Linked DNA regions of Homo sapiens. The protein of the gene in region 2 interacts with the protein of the main gene of each other region in a pairwise test. Each region holds a gene or a part of one and is shown on either strand. Other genes may lie near its edges.

Evidence for each region.
Region 1: the proteins of GOLM1 (region 2) and INSIG2 interact in binary tests that used the Homo sapiens proteins (3 or more experiments, as listed by UniProt).
Region 3: the proteins of GOLM1 (region 2) and SLC13A5 interact in binary tests that used the Homo sapiens proteins (3 or more experiments, as listed by UniProt).

Annotation. Positions count from the first base shown.
Region 1 is NC_000002.12:118,105,430-118,111,497, reverse strand, and holds the end of INSIG2 (insulin-induced gene 2 protein), read right to left. Parts: intron 4,762-6,068; coding exon 4,595-4,761; intron 4,409-4,594; coding exon 4,309-4,408; intron 3,218-4,308; coding exon 3,176-3,217; coding exon of another isoform or gene 3,136-3,175; 3' UTR 501-3,135; downstream 1-500. UniProt on the Homo sapiens protein: Oxysterol-binding protein that mediates feedback control of cholesterol synthesis by controlling both endoplasmic reticulum to Golgi transport of SCAP and degradation of HMGCR.
Region 2 is NC_000009.12:86,033,518-86,040,558, reverse strand, and holds part of GOLM1 (Golgi membrane protein 1), read left to right. Parts: intron 1-4,051; coding exon 4,052-4,211; intron 4,212-4,933; coding exon 4,934-5,191; intron 5,192-7,041.
Region 3 is NC_000017.11:6,703,370-6,710,410, forward strand, and holds part of SLC13A5 (Na(+)/citrate cotransporter), read right to left. Parts: intron 3,788-7,041; coding exon 3,659-3,787; intron 3,410-3,658; coding exon 3,273-3,409; intron 688-3,272; coding exon 509-687; intron 1-508. UniProt on the Homo sapiens protein: High-affinity sodium/citrate cotransporter that mediates the entry of citrate into cells, which is a critical participant of biochemical pathways.

The DNA of each region.
Region 1 (6,068 bases), on a different chromosome or scaffold from region 2:
TCTCTGGGGGTGGAACCCAGACACCAGAATTTTCTATAGGTCCCCATGTGATTCCAATATGCAGGCACATTTAAGAATTTTCCAGAATTGAAAACATGAGCCCACAGATTGAAAGTACATACCAAATACCAAGCAAAAAAAAAAAATAACAAATCTACAACTAGTCAAATCATAATGAAGCTGAAAAATGTTAGAGGATAGAGAGAAAATCATGCAAATATCCTAGAGTGAAAAGATAGATTATCTACAAAGGAAAGAAAATTACGGTAATGGCAGACTTATCTGTAACATTAGGTGACAGAAGACAATGAGTTAAAAATCTTCAAAGTGCTGAGGGAGGGAAAAAAACTATGAACATAGAATCCTACAGCCTGCTAAATTATTCTTCAGAATGAAACAGACCTTTTCAGACACACAAAGCTAAGACTCTACTACTCAGACCATCACTGGAAGAATTACCTTACACAGAATATACTTCATTATAAAGGTAACTGAGCCAATAGGATTACAGAAGTATTTATTGGTATTAACCAAGTCTGACTTCTACCTGGAAAATACAAGATGTATGAAACATATGCATCATTGAGAGGTCCCAATGGCCTTAAAGAAGGTAAAACAGCTCAGTGCAAATAAATAAATTTTACATTAAAAGTTTTAGCAGGGCTCTGGCTAATTTGAATTGTTTTCTTGCACTTTTGTAGAATTTATCCCCAGTTTTCAACTGTGCAAATTTCCATAACTTGAAATAATAAAAGAAAGCACTGCCAATCTAGCAATGTTAAAAAATGTTTCCCATTTTCTTTCATTGAAAAAAATAGGTTCTATACATTTATATATTTATCAAAATTTCAAAACAATTTTATTTTTTGCTATAATTATCTTATTTTCTAGAGGACCTGAAAATAATTTAAGAACACCAACGATAATCATTCAGTCTCACCGATACCACACACAGTTGACCCTTGAACAGCATGGTTTTCAGCTGTGTGGGCCCACTAATAATGCACATCTTCTTCCACCCCCGCAACAGCAAGACCAACCCCTCCTCCTCCTCCTCCTCAGCCTACTACTCAGCATGAAGATAGCATGAGTGAAGACTTTTAGGATGGTCCACTTCCACTGAATGAAGAGTAAACACATTTTCTTTTCCTTAGCTTACACTATTGTAAGAAAACAGTATATAATACATATACCATACACAATATGTGTTCATCAACTGTTTCTTATTGGTAAGGCTTCCCATCAAGAGTAGGCTATTAGTAGTTAAGTTTTGGAGGAGTCAAAAGTTATACATGGATTTTCAACTATGTTGGGGAGTGGTGCCCCTAACTCCTGTTGTTCAAGGGTCAACTATATTTAGTTTCTTTTCATCGTTTCTTGGTAACTTCAACCACATATGTTAATTTCATTAGATTAATCCACAGTACCATATTCTAAGACTTACCACAAAGAAGAAAAACAGACTCTTAACCCAGATGATAATTACATATTTAATACGTGTTGCTTTTAACAGCAATTTTTAAAGTAAACACATCATAGACCTTATAACTTATTAAAGATTTTATAGTGCTTACAAAGTTGATTCTAAAAAATATACCTTATTTGTTCTAAATGAATAACATTATCTGGAAGATATAATAATAAATTATAGTAGTATGTTTTCCACCACGATAGTTAAGATTGTGTACACATATTCAATATGAAATCCTCTTAGGATTTTCACACCTTCAGCCTGAAAACATAAAAGCAGATTAAAGTTTGGCATACAAGATCTCAGTCTGATAGTAATTGCTTTAAAACTCAAAGTGTAAAAATATCTACTTGACATTCTAGGAAAGCATGGCCACATGCACAGACACATTCTCTCACTCACTCCAACACACACGTGTGCACACATACTCACACCCCAGAGTACTCAGAAGATCTTGCCCTTGTGGATCAGACAACTGCCACCAATTTCAAAAACTAATGGAAAAAATTAGCTAAGAATATGTTTAAACCATACTTAAGAGGTGCTGGTTGCCATTAAGATCTTTAACATGCAGAGAATGCCATCTCAATACACTCTTAAACAGACTTGAACTATTCACTAATGGATACACGAATACATGAGAAATTATGTATTCATCCACCCCCAAGACTGCATGTAAGATGAAAAACCTAGGCATTCCACCAACGAGTCATATGACTGAACCCAGCTAAAGCTACAGTGGTTTGCTTCACAGAACCCAATAGAAGACAGAACCCAACAGATTTAGAAACCTCATTGTGATCTGTTTGGAGTTTCCTATATGCTCCATGTGCAAAAGCAATGAGATTCTGTATTGCAGATGACAGCTAATATCACTTTGCACTTTTGTGACACTGCAAGAGGTCACTGTATTTCCAAAACATGTATTTATTCTAATTAAATCCTCTAATGTTCCTTACTTTTAATTATATATACTGTTCCAAATTTAGAACCAAAACAATTTAATGCTGATAACCTCTTCTGCTCATCACATATACTTCCAGTAAAACCTGTCAAAACAGAAAATTACTCTTTGGGCTGTCTCCAGTAACGCAGGTTTGAAACCAGAAGTTCATTTTCACCCTGTATCAAAACACTCCAAACTCTATGAAACAACATTAAATTAGAAACTAACCACAAATTAGGGCACTCATAACTCATACTGCTGTGATTAGAAAAATAAAAAGGCACAACAGTAAGCTAAAGAGAAAATACCAGCTCCCCATATGCTTTTTGTTTGTTTGTTTTTGGCTTTCCTCTTATTTTATTTCACTAAGTCTACAAATTGTTCAAAGCATTCTTATACTCTGCATGACAGGAACAATATCTTGGCACATTAACATTGTGATACAATGTATGGCATGTTTTAAAAAATTAATTTAAAAATTTCATCTATTAATCAACACTTTTTAATGTAGTACATATATATCTTACAGTTATTTAAGTCAAATATGTAAAGGTTTACAACTGATTTACAGATGAAGCAATCACAGATTGCAGTAATATGTGTGTGTGTATATATATATTTATCCATATATACACACACGCCAATCAAGGGGAAAACTGCATCCTGGCAATTTTACAGTCTGAAGTTTTGTTGGTATATCTACCATTTCACATCCTTTTCATCTTGCTTTTCTGTACAAAAGATATTTTTTGCCTTCTTCATTCCTGATGAGATTTTTCTGCGATAACTTTACATTCGTACTGCAAAAATTAAAAGGTTAAAAGGTTAACAGATTAAGACTTCTTTTGAATAGCAACTTCCAAATAAACTGAAAAGCTCTAAAAATGAACATTTTATTACTATGTGCCCATTTATTCCTCAAATAATCCAAGAGTTACATAATTACTATGATTAAATGACAAATGTGACAGGGAAAAAAATAATTCACATTCTGGAAGTGAAAAAGCCACAGCCAAAAGCAAGAGAAAGATGAGATTTCTGCATTACAAGCAAGTAGTGGCAGTATATGATTTAGAATTTAGATCAATCTTTTAATGTCGAAAGGAAGCAAAGCAGGTTTCTTTGAGTATTCAATAAGGCAAATTAGCAAAGAATAGTTCATGAACTTAAGGATAGGGCTGTTGTGGTGAACTCAGATCACTGTATTTTCAAATTGCTATATGATATAAAGGAAAAAATCTGTTACATTAACAAAAGCTTCCAGTCAAAACAACATTTTTAAAGTACAGCTATAAAAATGTACACCCACAATTCAAAATAAAGGAAACCAACAGGGTAAGATAATTGGTTGGCTATTTTACCAAAAATACAGCAAAGTAAGTCACTCAATTCTCCTAACCTGGCTAAAAAGGTAAAAGTGACAGCACTGATTCATAAAACTGCTGTGGCCTCTGAATGTCACTCCCTAGCCTTTTCCTTTTCCTTCATCACTAAAATGATCAAACATCTTGATTTGTTAGAGGTGGTCCTAATGTATACCTATTGTAGCAACACACTTATTAGTAGTGACCTTTTTAACTTTTAAAACTGTCCTTTTCTGATATAGTGGGAGACCTGTAGATTAGTTTTTTAAAAACCACTAATATCCCCCATATGGTCAATAAATCATATTGCCCTATCCATAACACATTTTGAGTTTTTCTCTCCAGTGGCTCCTCAACTTTTAAAACACCTGTGATTAAATTCTTCCAAATGATTTATTTCAATGGAAGTGCAAAAAAGCAATCAAAGAATGTTGTCTTCACAAATTGCTTTCCCTTAAAGGACTGCCTTTTAGAGAAAACTTGTCATTTGTTCCACATCTTATTCAGAAAAGTGAGCATCAGCTTACCATTGCCAGTTGTCGACCAATGTTTCCCATTGTTATGCCTCCAGCAAAAAATATACATGGTAACCAAGAACGAACATAGAGGAAATCTGGAGATGTATATCTAGAATAACAGACATGTCTTTAATACCCACAGAGGAACTGCAATGACACTTAAGATAATTACAATGAAAATAAACTACTCTGTAGATTAAACTGGCTAACCTCATTTCATAATCTCAATTCTGAAAGCGGTTATCATTTATTTATCTAGCAAACAAGCACCAAAAATTGAAGGATTAATACTTACTGGTAAACACCATTATATACTAGCAGTTGAGTGACCACAGTTGCCAAGAAGGCAATTCCTACTCCAAGGCCAAAACCACTTCTAGATCTATCAAAAGTCCACCACAGTCCAATGGATAGTGCAGCCAGTGTGAGAGACAACTGTATGTTGTTATCGAAATCCACTTTCTGAGATCAGTGTTAAGAAGTCATCTTAAAAGTTGTAACCAAATAATATCATCTGTTCATTTTTCTAAATAAGAGATGCCTCTGTTGAGAAGGGAATTAATTGCTTCTACTCAAGTACATTCAGTCTCTTAGTACAATGTATGAAGCTAGGTGGGATTAAAACTGTCTCCAGTATTTACCCAATACCAGATACACAAAAGACATTAATCAATAGATCCTACCAACTGTAACCCCTCCAAAACAAAAAACAAAACAAAACAAAAAGAACAGTCTACATACATTCCCAATTATAAGGCTTTACCCATTATTTAAGAAATGCTTTCTTTGCTAAAAATGTAACTGGAAGCCTCAGAACACAAGTATCACTAAAGGAACACACTTTTGCAAAAAAGGAAACCAATATTACTTCTCCAACAGGTTTAGAATTACTTGAGAATCGTACAGGAACTTGAAAATAGAAGAGTTGACAGCTATTTAACAGGGTACCACATTCTCTCTATGATTTACTGACAGACACATTTTATAATAATGCAGTTCAGAAACAAGAGTACCAAGGACACAGTATCCCTTTCTATTATGTCAACTGTTCTAGTTTTAATTTGTTGAGGATAAAGCCTTGAAGTGAACATTATCTTACAACCTGCCAAGCTATTTTGGTGCCTGAGACTTTCTGGTATAGGACAGTTTGCTCAAATGATATTTTATTTTCATCACCTACTTAAGCATCTATTCACAAATGTATGGCCCTTTTCTACACCAAAATCTCTGGGTAAAATTAAGCTTTACAAATTCAGTTTTCTCATCTCTTTGCTAGAGGATTACACTAAAGGAATTAATTTCAAGTGTCATTAAAAGGGCATTATCTATGTCCCAAAGGCCACATCTTGGCTCTATAACCAGCTACTGGGGAAGGCGGGGGAGGTTTGGGAGAACACGTATCACCAAACTGACCATGCTGCACGTATAGAGAAATCCAAAAAAGAAATTGCAACGAAGCCATTTCCCACTTCCTTTAACACTCTTTTTCACCATTTCCCCACCCCTACCAAGCAAGTATCCTAAACACCCAGCTTGCTTATTTCTCAGAATCTCAGGACTATTGTGGGCAACTCCCTCAAGGTCCTTCCTTGTTAAGGCTTGATTTAAAAAGAAACCTACAGTTCATATGGGTATGCTTCTGGAAAAGCTTTTCTTATTGTTATGCTGTCATTATACTTAAAGTTCAAAGAAAAGGTTTAGAGCTCTGATTTCCCTATGAAATAAACACTCATGTAAAGAGTGGAATTTGGTATTAAATGAGTTTCATG
Region 2 (7,041 bases):
CCTCCAGCCCCGCTTCACAAGCTCAGGGCTTTACGGGAATTATCGTATTTAAAGCTCGCAGCCAGCCTGGGAGAGAGTTGCTGTTTTCCTGACTTGAGGACCCCAGCCCCATGGGAGGGGTTAAGTTCTGTGGCCAGTGTCACACCACCTGGTCAGTGGTAGAGCCCATCAAGACCTCAGGTCTGGCCGACTCCATGTCTCGTGCTGTCATTCCACCTCCTGTGCAGAGCACAGCCCACGAAGCTGCTGCTTGAAGCCTTCTGGGTGATCTTTGAGTAGTTTTTTAAAAATATAGCAGCTTTATTAAGATATAATTTGCATTCCCTATGATTCACCCATAGAAAATTTACAATTCATGGGTTCTGAGTATATTCACAAAGTTATGCAGCCATCACCACAGTCAATTTCAGAACATTTTTATTGGCACAAAAGAAACCGTGTATCCCTTAGTTCTCTCTTCAGTCCCCACAGCCCTAGACAGCCAACTGCTAATGTACTTTGTGTCTCTTGATTTGCCTAATCTGGACAATTTCCTGTCAATAGAATCATATATGTGTGGCCTTTTGTGTCTGACTTTTTTTTTTTTTTTTTGAGAGGGCATCTCGCTCTCTCACCCAGGCCAGAGTGCAGTGGCGCGATCTCAGCTCACTGCAGCCTCTGCCTCCCAGGTTCAAGCGATTCTCCTGCCTCAGCCTCCCGAGTAGCTGGGATTACAGGCACCCACCACCACACCTGGCTAATTTTTGTATTTTTAGTAGAGACGGGGTTTCATCATGTTGGCCAGGCTGGTCTTGAACGGCTGACCTCAAGTGATCCACCCACCTCGGCCTCCCAAAGTGCTGGGATTACAGGCGTGAGCCACCACGCCCGGACTGTCTGGTATCTTTGACTGAGTATGAATACCTCAGGGCTCATCGGGGTTGCAGCATGTGTCTGTACTGCATTCCCTTTAATGGCTGATTAATCCATCCTGTGGATAGACCACATGTGGATTATTCATCATCAGTTGATGGGCATTTGGAGTGTTTCCATGTTTTGGCTATTATGAATAATGCCGTATGAACATGAAGCTTTTGTGTGGTCATATGTTTTCATTTCTCTTGGTTAATACCTAGGAGTGGAACTGCTGGGTTATATGGTAATCTATATTTAACCTATTGAGGAACTCCCAGACTTCTTCCAAAGTGGCCATACCATTTTCGACTGCCACCAGTAGTTTATGAGGGCTCCAGTTTCTTCACATCCTTGCCAACTCTTGATACTACCTTTTTCATGATACCCTTCCTAGCAGGTGTGGAGTGGCAGCTCGTTGTTTGGGTTTGCATTTCCCTAATAACTGTGATATCCCTGATGATATTCAGCATCTTTTCACATGTTTCATTGGCCATTTGTATATCTTCTTTGAAGAAATGTCTATTTGGGTCCTTTGCTCATTTTTTAATTGAGTTATTTTTATTATTGAATTGTAAGAGTTTTTAAAATCTATTTTATTAAAGATATATGATAATGGATATATGATTTGCAAGTTTTTTTTCCCAATTCTGTGGGGTTTTTCACTTTCTTGCTGGTGTTTAGTTGAAGCACAGAAGTTCTTAATTTTGACAAAATCCCCATTTTATTTATTTTTTCTTTTGTTGTGTGTTCTTGGTATTATATCTAGTAACACTTTGCCTGACCCAAGATCTTGAAGATTTACTGTTACATTTTCTTCTCAGAGTTTTATCGTTCTTAGTTCTTACGTTTAAGCCTGTGATTCATTTTCAGTTAATTTAATTATTGCATATGGTGTGAGGTAGAGCTCCCACTTCATTCTTGTGTGTGTGCGGTTATCAAGTTGTCTCAGTAATCACTTGTTGAAAGAAAGACTGCTTTTCCCCCACTGAATTGTCTTGGCACCTTTGTCAGAAATCAGTGTGCTGTAAGTATGAGGGTTTTTAGTGAGCCTGAGTGTTTTAGTGAGCCTGAGTCCCTTGGCTGTGAATGTCCCCTATGCTTCTCTTCAGTACCCACTCCCTACCCCAGTGGGACAAAGTGGCTGGAATGGGCTGGAGTTGAGTAGCTTCCTTCTCCCACGTGGAAGTCTAGAGCTTACTGGAGTTGGGTGTTTCATTCCCCCAGGTCAGTTAGGCTCAGATAATATGCCCGCAGGAGCTCTGGGTAATGCGCTCCTCGTGAGGGCCGGCCTGGTTAAGGAGAATAGAGCACTCTGGCCTGTTTCAGAATGGTTCCTTTCCCCGCCACACTGCTGGAAGCACAAGCCGATTTTTCTCTGATGTTCACTGAGAGCCTTTCTCTAATATTCACTGAGAGCCTGGTTGAGCTCCTAGGGGTAAAACTCATAAGTATGGGAGTCCCTTATGACTGGGGCAGGTTTTTTCTTTTTCTTTTTTTTTTTTTTCTTTTGGTGTTGGAGTTTTGCTTTTATCGCCCAGGCTGGAGTGCAATGGCGCAATCTTGGCTCACCACAACCTCTGCCTCCCGGGTTGAAGCAATTCTCCTGCCTCAGCCTCCCGAGTAGCTGGGATTACAGGCATGCGCTACCACACCTGGCTAATTTTGTATTTTTTAGTATATCGGGGTTTCTCCATGTTGGTCAAGCTGGTCTTGAACTCCCGACCTCAGGTGATCAGCCCGTCTCAGCCTCCCAAAGTACTGGCATTACAGGCATTAGCCACCACGCCTGGCTGGGGCAGGTTTTTAACTCTCAGACTCATCCACACTGAGCCTCAAACAGTTCATAAATGACAGGGTCAGGCTCTCCCACCCTGACACCAGTTCCCGTGGTGATGTCTGCCCAAGCCTGTCCTGGTGAGCCGGGACTCTCTGTATTGGGCTGTCTGTCTCCAGGCTTAAGGACAGTGATTTACACTCTGTCCTCACCTCTCCTATGGATCCAAGAAGAGCTGATAACTTTTCAGTCTGTTTAGTTTTTTACTTGTTAGGACTAAGTGGTGACTTTTAAGCTTCTCACGTGAGGAACAGAAAACTGGAAGTCTTCTAATACAGATGCTTGAAGGTGTACATTTCTTCTAAGCACTGCTGGAGCTGCTTCCCATAAGTTTTGGTATGCTGTGTTTTTGTTTTGTGGCAAAGCATTTTCTTTTTTTTTTTTTTTTTTTTGAGAGACAGTCTCGCTCTGTCGCCCCAGGCTGGAATGCAATGGCATGATCTTGGCTCACTGCAACCTCCACCTCCCAGGTTCAAGCGATTTTCCTGCCTCAGCTGGAAATCACCTCCTTGCCTCACCTCCCAAGTAGCTGGAATCACAGGTGCCTGCCACCACACCTGGCTAATTTTTGTATTTTTAGTAGAGATGGGGTTTCACCATGTTGGCAAGGCTGGTCTCAAACTTCTGACCTCTGGTGATCTGCCTGCCTCGGCCTCCCAAAGTGCTGGGATTACAGGTGTGCGCCACCGCGCCTGGCTGTCCAAGCATTTTCTAATTTGTGTTGTGGTTTATTGTTGGACTCACTGGTTATTTAGGAGTGTGTTGTTTAATTTCCAAATATTTGCAAATGTCATAAGTTTCATCCTGTTATTGATTTATAATCCATTCCATTTCTATTAATTTACTTTGTGTGATTTTAGTTAAATATTTAAGTGTATGGAGGCTTGCTTTGTGGCCTGCCATTTGTCCATCCTGGAAAATATTGTGTGTGTGCCTGAGAAGCAGGTGTGTTTGCCCTTGCTAGGCTGAGGGTTCTGCAGATGTTTGTTTCGTCAAGGAGTATTGTGTCGTTCATGTCTTTTTTGTTGTTGATCTTCCGCCTAGGTATTTTATTATTCCGTAAATGCTTCCTCTCAGCAGAATCACTGCCCAGTTTTATTCTGTATTGACAGTACTTTCTGGGAGACCTTGACTCAACCTCTTGTCTTCTGATTTACGCCACATGACCAGGGCGTGACCAGAGTAGACTGTGGCGTTTCTCGGGGTCTTGGTTGGAAGGATATGGTGGTGGGATTGGTGGGATTCATTGCATTGGTAGGATTCTTTTACGGCTTCTGTTCACAGAGCCCTGCCCTGGCTGGCTGTCCTGTGCTTCTGTTTCAGCTCCAAGCCCTCAGTGAGCCTCAGCCCAGGCTGCAGGCAGCAGGCCTGCCACACACAGAGGTGCCACAAGGGAAGGGAAACGTGCTTGGTAACAGCAAGTCCCAGACACCAGCCCCCAGTTCCGAAGTGGTTTTGGATTCAAAGAGACAAGTTGAGAAAGGTAAGCAGAGCCCAGCAGTTGCCCTGTTCCCAGCTCTCCAGAGCCCCATCAGAGGAAGCAGTCCCAGCGAGCTGCTGAGGCAGTCAGTGAACCCGGCAGCGGCGCAGCCAGGAGCAGGGACGTGTCTCTCTGGGCCCCTGGAATTGGGGCTTTGGGGCTTCTCTGACAGATGTCTCCTCCTTGTAAACGAAGTGCCTTGTTCCTGGGCAGCTGTGTAGAGAAAGGCCCAGGCTGCACCTTTATGCAGGACATTGGTGGGCTTGTGGGACTCGGGGGAGGCGGCTGAGCCCCAGACACTGGGAACCAGGAGGCTGCTGTGTCTGTGAGCAAGCCCTGGGTGGGCCTGCCTGCCCTGGCTCCCAAGTGCTTGCTCCAGCGGACCCGATGATCAGGTCACTCAGCAGGATACCCTTTTCCCTTTGTACCTTGTCAAGGTAATTTAGTCCAGGTGTTTTTTTTTTTTTGTTTTGTTTTTTTTTTTGGTAAGCTACTTTTCCCTTTGTCGCGGTTCTGACGATGAGCTGCAGGCACAGAAAGGCCTGCAGTCTGTGGCTGAGGTCACAAAAGGAGCTACCTGGTTGTTCTCCTGTGTGCAGCCCACCCCACCCCCACTCCTTGGGAAGGCTCTGGGAATTGAGTGGCACCAGGTTTTGCTTTTTTTTTTTTTTTTTTTTTTAAATCAAATGCTGGCAAGGTCACAGCTAACTGTGTTCTGTGCACAGAGGAAACCAATGAGATCCAGGTGGTGAATGAGGAGCCTCAGAGGGACAGGCTGCCGCAGGAGCCAGGCCGGGAGCAGGTGGTGGAAGACAGACCTGTAGGTGGAAGAGGCTTCGGGGGAGCCGGAGAACTGGGCCAGACCCCACAGGTGCAGGCTGCCCTGTCAGTGAGCCAGGAAAATCCAGAGATGGAGGGCCCTGAGCGAGACCAGCTTGTCATCCCCGACGGACAGGAGGAGGAGCAGGAAGCTGCCGGGGAAGGTGGGTGTGAAGTTTCGGGGGCCGCTGTGGACTCCCTTCCACCAGACACCCAGCCCACCTCCATGTCCTTCCCAGCACCAACATATCACCCTGAATTTTACCAAACAGCAGTCCACAATTTGCCAATTCCTTTTCGTTTGAAGGTTTCTTATTCGTTATCAAGAGGGAGGCAGGAAGGAAGAGCAGCATATGCTCTAGAACTCGAGGTTTTAGATGCAATATTGGCAGGGAGTCGAGGGGACCTTGCAAGTGGATGGCCTGCAGATGGGTGCTTAGCATCAAGTGGACGCCCCCTCCTGGCAGGCAGGCCACATGCCCCATTTTTGTATGTCCACCGTCGTGCAGTGTCTGGTGCCATTTAGACAATCAGTGCCTAGTGAATGAATGAAGGAAGGAAGGAAGGAATATTGGGTAGATGAAGGTTAATGCATATGTGAACATTGAGAAAAAATGACATGTGAATCACTCCTTTTTGGTTTGGTTGACTCTTTTCTTTTTAAAGAAATAAAGGGTAGGAATTGGAGATCAACCGACTATTCCAGGATGTATTTCAGTCCCTTCAGATATGGAAAATGTCCTTCCCACCTGAGCCAGGAACACTTCTGAGGACATGACACCTGCGCTCTGGGGTGGACCAAGTCACAGAAGTTGGAGAATACACTTATTTGCAGAAGTTACCTTGATTCCATTTAAATCTAATTTTCACTTCAGTGTCTTACTGAAGAACGTGTCCTTCCAAGTTCCAGTTAAAGAATTGGATTTTGTCAGCCTCCCCCTAAGTATCCCTGCTCTGTCCTTGTGTTCCGTGCTCACCCAGCAAGAAGATGCTTGTGGTGTGTGAGGCGGGGAGATCTCACTGGCTCGCTCAGCCTGTGGCGCTCCAGTGTCAGACCCCTCAGCGGCTGGTCACAAAGCGTAACAAAGGTGGGCCTGAGATGCCACAGTGCCTGCAGGATGCACCTGCTTCTAGATGCAGGTGTGGTGACCTCATTTGAAGAAACGCGGTGGACACATAGGCCTGTGCAGTTTCCACCCCAGGCAGTGAGCCAGAGAAAGAGACTAGAGCTGCTTTTCCAGGTGTGCACTTTTAAAAAAGATTTTGTTTGGCCGGGCGCAGTGGCTCATGCCTGTAATCCCAGCACTTTGAGAGGCCGAGGTGGGCGGATCATGAGGTCAGGAGTTCAAGACCATCCTGGCCAATATGGTGAAACCCCATCTCTTCTAAAAATACAAAAATTAGCTGGGCATGGCAGCACGTGCCTGTAATCCCAGCCACTCGGGAGGCTGAGGCAGGAGAATCGCTTGAACCCCGGAGGCGGAGGTTGCAGTGAGCCGAGATTACGCCACCGCACTCCAGCCTGGGCGACAGAGTGAGACTCCATCTCAAAAAAAAAAAAAAAAAGATTTTGTTTACCAGCCTGCATACACATATAAAATATGTAAGTTAAACCCTTTGAGTAGGTCTCTTGAAAGCCTTTTGTCCTCATCTTCTCTGGCTGCTGCCCACTCCAGGGAAGAATAGAGTAATGGGTGCTCTCATGCTCTAAGTATGAGGGACACCTTCTCACGTGTCTCACAGTGGCAGCTCCATTTCCTCTCTCCATTCTAAGGAGATGCTGTCATTAGCTGTAGATATCCGTTCCTTCCTAAAACAGTGGCACCTTTCTTTTATCTTGAGTTGATTATCTCTTTAAAAAATTGAGATTTGGGTTGTTAGTTTCTCCATGTTCTGCCTAGAATGCACCCTTGTATTTAGGGCCATGCTGTCTGTAGATTCCGAGTCCAAGTGGAGTACACATAATGCATGTGCTTGTCCTGGAAGCCAGCCCTTGCGTCCCTACCATTTCCAG
Region 3 (7,041 bases), on a different chromosome or scaffold from region 2:
TACTGCACTGGGCTGGGGATGGTAAGGGAACACGGCAGACGGCAAGGTAGATGCTGACTCGTCTTCCCTGAGCTTCGCACCTAGCAGGGAAGCAAGCATGGGACGCCAAGCCCCAGACCTATGGGAGCAGAGAGTGGAAGGATTTGAGCTGCTCGAGGAGGTCAGAAAAGGCCTCCTTGAGGATGAGCAGGAGTAGCAAGGAGTGAGGGGCATCCCTAAGTGCTCGAAAGATGCCCAAATGAATAATCAGGTGAACACACTGATTTCTGCAACTGATGGGAACTGAGGGTGAGACTTTGTTCAAAGCTCTATTAAAGGATCTAAGTTGTGTGCAATAATCCCCTCCTAAAACTTAGGACAACAGTATTTTCTATTTTTTTTTCTCTATGCGTGTTTAAAGGAGGGCTCCGGGAAGCAGACAGGGAGAAGGAGGTGGCCAAAGCATTTGCCAGCAGAGGGAGGGGAAGGCTGCTGTTGTGGCCTGGCAGTGCCCTGGCCAGGGGCTCACCTGGCAGCTCCTTGGCCTTGCCCTTGTCCACCAGCTCCAGGCCGGCCTCGGTGGCTGCGCTTGTGGCTTCCATCTGCTGCAATATGGCCTCCACGATGGGCACCATCATGGCCGTGGTTGCCGTGTTACTGATCCACATGGACAGGAGGGCTGTGACGCCCATGAAGCCCAGCATCAGCCTGCAGAGGAGGGGCAGGGAGGAAAGCCAGAGAATCCCCACCCCACCCCCGTACTCCCTGGGAAGCAACTGGGGACTGGGTCCACCCCTGCAGGGATGCACAGGTGTTGAGGCCAATTCAAGATCAGATATTGGAATAGGGATGACGGTTTTAGAGCCTCCCCTCCCTCCCTCCTTCCCTTCTTTGCTTCCTCCATTCCTCTCTCCCTCCTGCCTCTCCCACACCCATGACTGATGTCTACTCTGCTTGCTTCTGGGGTTACCAAGAGGCCTCAGATCCAGTCGTGGTTCTAAGGAGCACCCCTGCCCCACCATCTAGCAGGGGAAGCCCAGGCATCCAGATGGTGCCAACTCAATATGAGCTTGCCCTAGGGTGTGCTGGAATACCCCTATGTGCAGGCAGCCCCAGCTTCCCACTTCTGGCTAGGAAATTCCCACCCACCCCCAAACTCTGTTGCACCTCTCAGAAGTTCAGAAGGGCTAAGCAGAGTAGGGGTAGGGTGAGCTGGGGAGGGAGCTTGGGAAAGTGTGACTATTCTCCCGGCTGCCACTCCAACCCTGCCATCTCCCCTCCGCCCCGCACATACACTTTGACCCCTCCATGCTGCAGTGGAGCTATCACACAAACAGTATTCAGAAGAAACACTCCCTTTGCTTGTAACCCCTGCTCCCTTCTCTGCTGTCTATCAGGAAGACTCCTCATGGTCCTTCAGAGCCTGCTCAAACAACATCCCTCCTCTGGGACCACGCTCTCAGTGTGTGCACCAGGTGGGGCTGGCCTGACCCTTCTCAATCCTTCCCCCTACTCTAATCATCGCTGTGCTGGGTTCAAAGCACCTGTTTCCATGTCTGCTCTCTCCTTGGGCTGTGAGCAGGGCAGGGCCTGACTCTGCTCTGTGGCTCTACATGCCCCAGCTGTCCAAGGCTAGGGACAGAAGGAGCTCAGCTACTCTCAGTCTGTGGGCCTCGCTGCAGCCAGGCTCCTCCTCAGGGCTCCTAATTCACCTGGGGGTAGGAGCAGGGGCAGGGGTAGGAGCCTGAAGAAGGGACCTAGGAGCTGTTCTGCACCAGGGCCCAAGCTGCTGTCCACACAGGCAGACATTATGGACCCAAAAAAAAACAAAGCCCGGGACCCAGGCTAGGAGGAGGGGGAGAGTTTGCATGAATGGAGTTGTCTGAGAAGAACCAAGGCTTCTACATGATATCTCAAGGCACCAAGGGTGCCTCACATACAGGTGACTCCCAGGACAGGCAGTGCCTTGGACAACCGGAGACCATACTCAGAGGAGCAAGGTGGCAGGAAGGATACAGAAGCATGTGTGAACTTGGGTTTGGAAGTGGAAGCTCTCCAGCATGCTGCAGAATGAAACCCACTGGAGTGGCCTCCCACCCAAGCTGGCCACTCAAGGGAGCCAAGCAGAAGAATTCTGAGGGCCCTGAGGTCCACTTTCCTGGGGTCTCTCATTTCTAGAAAATATGATGGCTTTTGATTTGATGCTAAAGCAATTACTGGAAGGAATCAATGCCAGGATGTGTAACAGATCAGAGAGCCACAAAGTCCCCTGCTCAGGGGAATCTGAGGCACCAAGGGAGCCCCGGGCATGGGTTGCCTGCAGGGCAGGCTAGCGTCTGTGTGTGCTCAGGGTCTAGCACAGCCCCTGACACAGGGGCGCCTCAGGAGGAATTTACCGTAAACTGACCAGCAGCTGACTCCTGATGGCTGGGCCAAGGACGTGCCATCATTGAGGGGACACATTGTCTCAAAAGGAAGATATGCCCTGAGTTTCTGATTAGAGAGGACACAGGCCTTATCAGAGAAGCTGGGTCCAATCCCCGTGTGTCCATGAGCAAATCACTTTATCCCTCTCTGCCTCCAATCCCTCATCCACAGAATGTGGGCAGTAAGAATACTCAGCTCTCAGAGTTGTGGTAAGAATTAAATGAGGCAATTCATAAGCTCCTGGTATCATGCCTGGGGCCTTGTAGACACTCAATATACCCATTATGATCATGATTGATTATGGTTATGATTATGATTATATTGACTCCATGGCTTAGCTGGAAATGGCTAGCTAGATTGGCAGGAGAGATCCTGGAAATGGAGAGAGAAGCTGGGGTACTGAGTGATATCGGGGAAGATAAGAAGCTTCTTTGCAGTGGGAATAGATGCTCCAGCTTGGAGAGAGGACCTTTCTGCTTCCCCATGAGCTGGGTAGTTGAGCCACTTCTGGCCTGCTTCCCTTATCCTATCAGACACAGCTTGATCCAGCCTCTATCCAATTTGTTCCCGGTGGAACCCTGCAGCTAGCTGCCTCCCCCAGAAAGCCTTCCAAGCCTGCAAGGACTCTTGCTGACCCACCTCCTCTGGATTCGAGGACCCTTACTTACTGCTGCTCACCATGTGCCACCACCACGCATGCATCTGGTCTCTCCCACTAAAGCTATAACGCACCCCACCCAGCCAAGTCCAGGTAAGCCCATGGCCAGCCCTCACCAGTGGATGGCCTGGTCTGTGCCATCCTCCACCCCCTTCCAGCCCTGGGGCTCATGCAGAGCCACGTGGCAAGAGAGAGAAGGCGTAATTACCGTGCAGGCTTGGCCCCCACCCAGAGGAGCGTGCGCAGGGCGATCCTCTTGTGCAGGTTCCAGCGCTCCACAGCCACGGCCACGATGAGGCCGCCCAGGAACAGCATGTTGGTGTCCTTCATGTACTGGACACACACCTGGAGCGTGGCACGAAGGCCTCATCAGGACTGTCCCTTGCCACACACTAGAGCCACCCAGTCCCCAGATGCTGACTTCAGGGACAGCTTGGAGTGGGGATGCAGGCTCGAGTGGTGTCTCCCTGCCAGGGAGAATCCACAAATGAGGGTTTTCCGGTCACCCCCAGGCCTGTGCGACTCACAGTGGGGACTAGAGAAAGAGAGAAGGGGAGAACCAGAAAGTCACCAGGATCCCTTGGGTCTGCTCACCTGCCTGGAGTCCAGAATCTGGAAGAGTGGGAAAAGCAAGACAGGCATGAGAGAGGTGACAGCCAGAGGGATGACTTCTGTGCACCAGTAAATGGCCATGAGGATGATGACGTAGGCACACCTGACAAACTGAAGAGACAGTCCTGAGGCCTCAGCGTGTTGCCGCCTCCCTCTCCCCACCCCCAGAACACTCCGGACGGCGGCTGGCATGGATTGTCAAGACACAGTGCTGATCTCAGAGGGATTCCCCTCAAAGTCATCTTGTTCCCCAGCCCTGGTCAGCACAGCTTTCCCGGGTCAGGCCAGGGATCTATTCGCAAAGGACTCCTGCCCCATTCCCACCCCTCCTCCCTGCCTCCCTCCTTCCCAGCTGTGTGGTTCTAGGCACGTTCTTTCATCTTCTCAAACCTTGGATTAGCTGCCTCTCAAAAGAAAAGATCAAGAATAGGACAAGGAAGAAAAGGAGAAAGAAGGAGAAGGAGGAGAAGGAGGAGGAGGGGATAGAAGAAAGAGAGGAAGGGGGATGGAGAAGGAAGAAAAGAAAGGAGGAAGAGGAGAAGGAGAAGAAGAATAAAATACCTGGTTTTTTTGGTTTTATTATTATTTTATTTTTGAGATGGAGTGTCGCTCTTGCCGCCTAGGAGGCCATTGTTCTAAGAGAAGTGACTCAGCAATGGAAAGCCAAATAGTGCATGTTCTCCCTTATAAGTGGGAGCTAAGCTATGGGTATCCAGAGGTATATAGCGTGGTCGAATGGATACTGGAGACTTAGAAGCAGACAGGGTGGGATAGGAGGGAGGGATTAAAATCTCAGACTTCACCACTATCCAATTCATTCATGTAACCGAAAACTACGTGTACCCCTAAAGCTATTGAAATAAAAGTAATAATAATTATGTGATAAAACTAGCCACCTCCCTAGGTTGTTTTATGTTTCATCAGTATTTTTTGTGTGTGTGTGTGTGACAGAGTTTCGATCCTGTTGCCCAGGCTGGAGTGCAATGGCACAATCTCAGCTCACTGCAACCTCCACCTCCCGGGTTCAAGCGATTCTCCTGCCTCAACCTCCGGAGTTGGGATTGCAGGCACCTGCCACCACGCCCTGCTAATTTTTGTATTTTTAGTAGAGACGGGGTTTTGCCACATTGGCCAGGCTGATCTCGAACTCCTGACCTCATGATCCGCCCACCTCAGCACCCTAAAGTGCTGGGATTACAGGCGTGAGCCACCGCGCCCAACCTCAGAGTTCCTTCTTAGATGTCTCCCTGCGCCTCTTCTATAGTCTGGTTTGTGCCCTTCCTCTGAGTACCCTCCCCAGCCATTAGCATATGGAGTTGTCACTGTTTCCTCAACTGTCCTTCTACCACCACAACCAGTGCGTGACTCGAAAGCACAAACAGTACAGTGAGTCCTCACTTAACATCATTGATTGGTTTTTGGAAATTGCAATGCGTAAGCGAAACAACATAAGCCAATATTCCCATAGGCAAATTGCTAGAAACAACAGTTAAATTTCTACAGCATATTTCTGGTCACAAAAACATCACGGAGATCTTAAATAAAGACCAAAACACTTCCAATATTAAACACTGAAGGGAATGTGAGCTATACATATACTTAAGAAACATTGAAAACAAGTTAGATAATTATTTACCCAGTTACAGCAGGTCAGGGTCTTGGGTGACCAGATCCTGTCCCGGCAGCTCAGGGTACAAGGTGGAAACCAGCCCTGGACAAGATGCCATCCCATTGCAGAATGCACACTGACACGCACGCCCACGCTCACTCAGACAGGGACCATACAGACACTCCAATTCACCTAACGTGCACGGGTTTGGGATGTGGAAGGAAACCATACTAGCCAAAGAAAAGCCATGTGGACATGAGGGTAATGTGCACGCTCCACACAGACAGTGGCCCCAGCCAGTAATCATTTTCTTTTCTTTCTCTCTCGCTCTTTTATTTCTTTTTTTTTTTTTTTGAGACAGGGTCTGGCTCTGTTGCCCAGGTGGGAGTGAAGTGGCACGGTCACAGCTCACTGTAACCTCCATCTCCTGGGCTCAAGGGATCCTTCCTTTTTTTTCCCTCCCTCATCAACATTATAATGAAATGATATTGAATGAATCAACATTATTCAAGAACCTGCTGTATTTGTAGATCACCGTCCTCAGCATCCAGAACAGGCCCAACACTTAGGATATCTTTGCAAATTCTTGCTTATTTATTTATTTATTTATTTATTTACTTACTTACTTATTTTTGAGACAGAGCCTTGCTCTGTCCCCAGGCTGGAGTGCAGTGGTGCAATCTTGGCTCACTGCAGCCTCTACCTCCCAGGTTCAAGCGATTCTCCTGCCTCAGTCTCCTGAGTAGCTGGGACTACAGACAAGCGCCACCACGCCCGGCTAATTTTTGTATTTTTAGTAGAGAGGGGATTTCACCATGTTGGCCAGGATGGTCTTGATCTCCTGGCCTCGTGATCCACCTGTCTCGGCCTCCCAAAGTGCTGGGATTACAGGCATGAGCCACTGTGCCCGGCCATCTTTGCAAATGTTTATTAAAGGAATCAATAGCATTCATCTGAGTTTAACTCTGACAATGCTGCTGAAGAACAGATGCACCTGTACACAATCCCTGCTTCTCATCACCCAGAAGAGCGTATGTATTATTTGCACAAAACAGTGCAGGAAGACTTGGAAATTCTTTGTCAGGGTTGTGTTATCAGCCACAAAAAAATAAATCTTTTTTCAGCATCCCACGAGCAAACCAGGGCACCTCCCTACTGGGAGGCAGGGTCCCTCAGCCTCGGCACACTGACATTTTGGGCTAAATGATGCTTTGTTGTGGGAGCTGTGCACTGCAGGGTGTTTAGAGCACCGCTGGCCTCCACCTATGAGATGCCAGTAAGACTGTCTCCAGGTTGGACAGCAAAAAATGTCTCTGTACTTTGCCAAAGTTCCCCTGTTGTGGGGCAGGGTGAGGGCAGGAGAAAGGGTCAATGCTGGTTGACAGCCGCTGAACTAAAGGCGGAACAGCAGCGTGACTGGAAGCCCAGGCTTTGACACCAGACAGATATGATTGGCGCCCACTGTCAGCCACTGTCTGGCCTTTGGCAGCCACTAACTTCCTTGGGGCTTGGTGTCGGGGTGTACCCTGGGCAGGCCATCAGAATGATGCCTCCAGGGGCAGACAATGAGAGGGCGCATTGGAGAGAATTTTAAAACAATAATATTAGCTAAAAATTAGTTTGCTTCTTACTATCATCAAGTGATAGCAATTCTAAACAATGTCGCTCATAAATTACTCCTCCTGCTCCCAATCCTGGTCCCTGTCCCCTCTTGTTTCATGTCTTCATCTGCAAATCGTGGATTTAAGAGTGCTCA